Regions from separate parts of the Homo sapiens genome. Here region 1 is linked to region 2. The links come from fine-mapping of genetic effects on gene expression. A gene starts in region 2. The other region holds a variant in brackets. All regions are shown on one strand. Distances are between the middles of the regions.

Region 1 (2,905 bases), 33 kb before region 2:
CAAGGGTTTAGGGATAGCCCTCACCTGTTTGGTCAGACACTGGCCCAAGATCTAGGACACTTCTCAAGTCCAGACACTCTGATCCTTCAGTATTTGGATGATTTACTTTTGGCTACCAGTTCAGAAGCCTCGTGCCAGCAGGCTGCTCTAGATCTCTTGAACGTTCTAGCTAATCAAAGGTACAAGGTGTCTAGGTCAAAGGCCCAGCTTTGCCTACAGCAGGTCAAATATCCAGACCTAATCTTAGCCAGAGGGACCAGGGCCCTCAGCAAGGAATGAGGGCCCTCAGCAAGGAACAAATACAGCCTATACTGGCTTATCCTTGCCCTAAGACATTAAAACAGTTGCGGGGGTTCCTTGGAATCACGGGCTTTTGCTGACTATGGATCCCCAGATACAGCGAGATAGCCAGGCCCCTCTATACTCTAATCGAGGAGACCCAGAGAGCAAATACTCATCTAGTAGAAGGGGAACCAGAGGCAGAAATAGCCTTCAAAACCTTAAAGCAGGCCCTAGTATAAGCTCTGACTTTAAGCCTTCCCACAGAACAAAACTTCTCTTTATACATCACAGAGAGAGCAGGGATAGCTCTTGGAGTCCTTACTCAGACTTGTGGGATGACCCCACAACCAGTGGCATACCTAAGTAAGGAAATTGATGTAGTAGCAAAAGGCTGGCCTGTTTACGGGTAGTTGCGGCGGTGGCCATCTTAGTGTCAGAGGCTATCAAAATAATACAAGGAAAGGATCTCACTGTCTGGACTACTCATGATGTAAGTGGCATACTAGGTGCCAAAGGAAGTTTATGGCTATCAGACAACCACCTGCTTAGATACCAGGCACTACTCCTTGAGGGACCAGTGCTTCAAATACGTATGTGCGTGGCCCTCAACCCTGCCACTTTTCTCCCAGAGGATGAGGAACCAATCGAGCATGACTACCAATAAATTATAGTCCAGACTTATGTGGCCCGAGATGATCTCTTAGAAGGCCCCCTAGCTAATCCTGACCTTAACCTATATACCGATGGAAGTTCATTTGTGGAGAATGGGATACAAAGGGCAGATTATGCCATAGTTCATGATGTAACCGTACTTGAAAGTAAGCCTCTTCCCCCAGGGACCAGTGCCCAGTTAGCATAACTAGTGGCACTTACCTGAGCCTTAGAACTGGAAAAGGGAAAAAGAATAAATGTGTATACAGATAGCAAGTATGCTTATGTAATCCTACATGCCAATGCTGCAATATGGAAAGAAAGGGAGTTCCTAACCTCTGGGGGGAACCCCCATTAAATACCACAAGGCAATTA[T/C]GGAGTTTTTGCATGCAGTGCAAAAACCCAAGGAGGCGGCAGTCTTACACTGCCAAAGCCATCAAAAGGGGAAGGAGAGGGGAGAACAGCAGGATAAGTGGCTGGCAGAGGCAGGGAAAAACCAGCAGAAAGGGAAGAGAGGAAGAGACAGAGGGAGTCAGAGAGAAAGAAAGAAAGAGACAAAGTCAAAGAGACAGAGACAAAGAGGGAGTCAGTGAGAGAGAGAGACAAAGAAAAAGTCAAAGAGAAAGAGAGATGGAAGTAGTAAAGAAAAAACAGTGTACCCTATTCCTTTAAAAGCCAGGGTAAAGTTAAAACCTATAATTGATAATTGAAGGTCTTCTCTGTAACCCTGTAACACTCCAATACCACCTTGTTGTCAGTGTAAACAAGGGCGTAGCGCGAAAGCACTGAGGCCACTGACAACCCATAGCCTTCCTATCAAAAATCCTTAACCCAGCAGGTTTCCTAACAGGGGATCTAAATCTTAATCACCATACAAAGGTCCAATCAGACATAGGAGGAACTCCCTTCAGGACAGGACGATAGATGGTTCCTCCCGGGCGATTAAGGAAAAACGACACAATGAGTATTCAGTAAATGATAAGGAAACTCTTGTAGAAACAGAGTTAGGAAAATTGCCTAATAATTGGTCTGCTCAAACTTGCAAGCTGTTTGCACTCAGCTGAGCCTTAAAGTACTTACAGAATCAGGAAGGAGCCATCTATACCAATTCTAAGTTAATATACACTAAACGAGGTCTTATTAATAGCAAAGAATAATTGAAATCCCAAACTTAAAAGGTTTTCAACAAAAGTAAAGTTTGCTAAAAGTTAACAGTGTAAACATATATTATCCTAACTTCTAATCTTGTGGAAATCAGACCCTATCAATACTCTTCAAAGCTCAAGTCCGTCAGCACAGAGCCATACAACTAATACCCCTATTTATAGGGTTAGGAATGGCTACTGCTACAGGAACCGGAATAGCCAGTTTATCTACTTCATTATCCTACTATTACACACTATCAAAGGATTTCTCAGATAGTTTGCAAGAAATAACAAAATCTATCCATACTCTACAATCCCAAATAGACTCTCTGGCAATAGTGACTCTCCAAAACCCCTGAGGCGTAGACCTCCTCACTGCTGAGAAGGGAGGACTCTGCACCTTCTTAGGAGAAGAGTGTTGTTTTTACACTAACCAGGCAGGGATAGTACGAGATGCCGCCCAGCGTTTACAGGAAAAGGCTTCTGAAATCAGACACCACCTTTCAAACTCTTGTACCAACCTCTGGAGTTGGGCAACATGGCTTCTCCCCTTTCTAGGTCCTGTGGCAGCCATCTTGCTGTTACTCACCTTTGGGCCCTGTAATTTTAACCTTCTTGTCAAATTTGTTTCCTCTAGAATGGAGGCCATCAAGCTATAGATGGTCTTACAAATGGAACCCCAAATGAGCTCAACTAACAACTTCTACCGAGGACCCCTGGACCAACCCGCTGGCCCTTCCACTGGCCTAAAGAGTTCCCCTCTGGAGGACACTACAACTGCAGGGCCCCTTCTTCGCCCCTATCCAGCAGGAAGTAGCTAGAGTGGT
Region 2 (2,905 bases):
GAACACCTGGCATAATAAAAAAGTAATGTAGGAAAATGAGAAATATATGAAAATGATGAGACACAAGATGATATAGGGAATAATTAATACTCTATGGAAAAGCAAAATGTATTATAAATGCTAGCTATGACAAGCCAACACTCTGGCAGAGTTCAAAAGCCTCTTTTCAATGAATTTAACATTAACTGCAAACTATGTTAAGGTCATATACGAAATATCTCACTTAATTCTACAGTTAACCTGTACACGTTTAAGTGGCGCAAGACTGAGCTAATGAAAAGCCTACCTACCCGGTCACAGCGTAACGCTCACGATGCATAACTAAAACTCCCTCCCGTCCCGTTCTGTTTTAAAAACCCTTCCTGTAAAACTTGCATAATCTTCCTCCTCATCACACACAATCTTTCTAGCAGGCTGACTAAATCCAAGTTTAAAGGAGATCTCTGCTAGGTAGGAGGGGAAGGTTCCGTAGGATGGGAGCGACAACCTGTCAAACCCATTTTTTAAGTGCTTAGGGAGAAATGTCACCCCAATCAGCCTGGAGAGTTCAATGGCTTGCGATGTACAGTTACATTTCTTCACGACCCTTTGTACGTTCTGGGATTCAACGAGACAACAAGAGGGGCTGGCTTTTCGTTTTGTTTCTCGGGGTAATGGATCTGGCCGGGTCTCTTCAGTCTCAGGCCTCGGTGCCAGGCGGGCGCCCCCAGCCACGCTCTGGCCCCAAAGTTCCCCAGTCCCGCTGCCGGGCGTCCGCAGTCACCGCCCGGGACCCAGGAACAATGCGGGGCTCCGGGCCGCTCACGATCGGGCCCGGGAGGCCATGCCCCGCCTGCGCTGCGGAACAAAAGGCGCTCGCGGGGCCGCGGCCGGGTGCCCGGGGCTCGCGGAGTCGACGCCCGGCGGGGAAGGCGCGGGGAAAACTTTCCAAGGGGCCGAGGCGGAGGGGCGAGGGCCGGGCCGCCCCCTCGCGGAGCCGTCCCGCACAATAGCCGGGCCCAGCGCGGGAAGGCCGGGCCGCCACGCCCCCGCCCCGGCCCCGGCCCCAGCCCGTACCTGGTGGTTCTCCTTCCTGCCGCCCGCGGCCGCCGCCGGCCCACCCGGGCCGCTAGTCATGTTCACGTACAGGGAGCGGGTGAGCGGGCTCCGCAGCGTCCACATCCTCCGCGCCAGCCACACGGACGCCAGGCTCAGGCACAGCCAGCCCGCCAGCAGTCTCATCGGGGGCCGCGGCCGCTCGCTCGGATCACCGCCGGCGCCGGGGCGAGGAGGAGGAGGCACCGCCGCCTCCGGCCACCGCCGCCACCGCCCGAGCTCGAGCCATCGCGGCCGCCTTGCCCATCCAGCCCCCTTCAGGGCAAAGGCTGGGGGTGGGGAGGAGCAGCCGGCGCGCAGCCTCGGCACCTCCCCCTTCCCTTCCGGCCGCGGAACGCCGCTGCCCCCTGCACCAGTTTCCATCCGGAGCACTTACGAGCGGCCGCGTCGCTTTCTCCCCCGGCGCCCTCCCTCCGTCCAATGAGCGGGCCGCTGGGAGGCGGGACAAAGGGAGCGCGCATCCGCCCGGAGCGCGTTCTCGTGTCCCGGCCCTGCCTTGGCCTCTAGTAAATGGCGGAGGTGGTTTTAATTTTTTTGAGGGCTGAGGAGATCACTTCCGAAGGCGGTAACTGCAGCCTCCCTGCCCCTCCAAGGTGGTGCTGGAAGGACCTCCAGTCTTTCCTCGCCTCATCCCACTCCACGGCGGGACTTTGACAGGGTTACCTCTCGACCCTCATCCCACTCCACGGCGGGACTTTGACAGGGTCGTGCAGTTAACCCCGGGGGCGCAAAGAGGGGAGTCATTCCTTTCGTGCATCCTGACACACACAGGTTCTTCCCGGAGACGAATGGTGCCAGTGATGGTTGCCCGCTCGGATGCGTAGTTTCCAGTTTACATTTAGAACCGACCTGCCAGACTCCCTCCTCTACTCTCCCCACCACCACGACCCGCCTGCCCCGTTCCCCAAGCCTGAGAAGTTGCTGGCTACGTGTTTCTATAAAGAATGAGTGAAAATTCTGCCTTTTGGGGAAGCTACCGCAGCTGGGGTACCCACAAGTAATGTTTTAGATGTATTGATGGCCCTGCCCAAGAATGAAGACCTCAAGTTAGACTCCTTGGCTGCCTTGTTTCCTTGAATTAGCACAGGGAAGTTGGACCCAACACTCTTAAGAGTGAACTCAGCTCTGGGAGCAGTGTTTAACCCGGATATTTATTTGATCATTTATAACACGAGGAGACCTAGCAACATTTCAGAACTGAAGGGTTAGTTACACTGTGTTCCTGTCTGCAGTTCTTCCTGCTATTATCCAAGCCACAATTAAGGAGTAACATTTCGTGGGAGTCCCTAACTTTAATACTTTCCTAGGTTTGTTTGGAAAGTGCTTTTAATTTAACTGCACCAGAAATAATGTAAATGTGTCTAAGTTCAAAACAAAAGAAGTAAGCCTTTTGGTTAATTCAGCGTTGCACATCAGAGATTTTCATTTATGAAACAGTGGGGTGGTGAGCCACAGATGGGGAACAAAATCATTCCTTACCCAACAGCTTTTTTTTTTTTTTTTTTTTGAAACGGAGTGGAGTCTCGCTCTGTCTCCAGGCTGGAGTGCAGTGGCTCGATCTCGGCTCACTTCAAACTCCGCCTCCCGGGTTCAAGCAATTCTTCTGCCTCAGCCTCCCGAGCAGCTGGGACTACGGGTGCGCGCCACCATGCCCAGCTAATTTTTGTGTTTTTCGTAGAGACGGGATTTCACCATGTTGGCCAGGATGGTCTCCATCTCTTGACCTCGTGATCCGCCTGCCTCGGCCTCCCAAAGTGCTGGGATTACAGGCGTGAGCCACCGCACCTGGCCCAACAGCTCTTTCATTAGC

The links. PIP is the estimated chance that this variant, and not a neighbour inherited with it, causes the effect.
Region 1: its variant is the best candidate, but not a certain one, in a credible set for the expression of METTL9 in blood mononuclear cells (TOPMed, PIP 0.58).

What each region holds. Positions count from the first base shown.
Region 1 is chr16:21,630,560-21,633,464 of GRCh38, reverse strand. The region is part of intron 4 of METTL9 (methyltransferase 9, His-X-His N1(pi)-histidine); the gene reads right to left. Among named protein-coding and RNA genes, the nearest start is that of IGSF6, 21 kb to the left of the region's middle. The variant T/C (reference allele first, on the strand shown) is at 1,309.
Region 2 is chr16:21,598,050-21,600,954 of GRCh38, reverse strand. METTL9 (methyltransferase 9, His-X-His N1(pi)-histidine) reads right to left here and starts at 1,378. Exons shown (of 5, transcript NM_016025.5): 1 at 1,057-1,378. The coding sequence starts at 1,221. It overlaps LOC101927814 (a long non-coding RNA gene), which reads left to right and starts at 1,570. Exons shown (of 3, transcript NR_110930.1): 1 at 1,570-2,299. RefSeq lists an enhancer at 99-663 and a silencer at 772-1,391.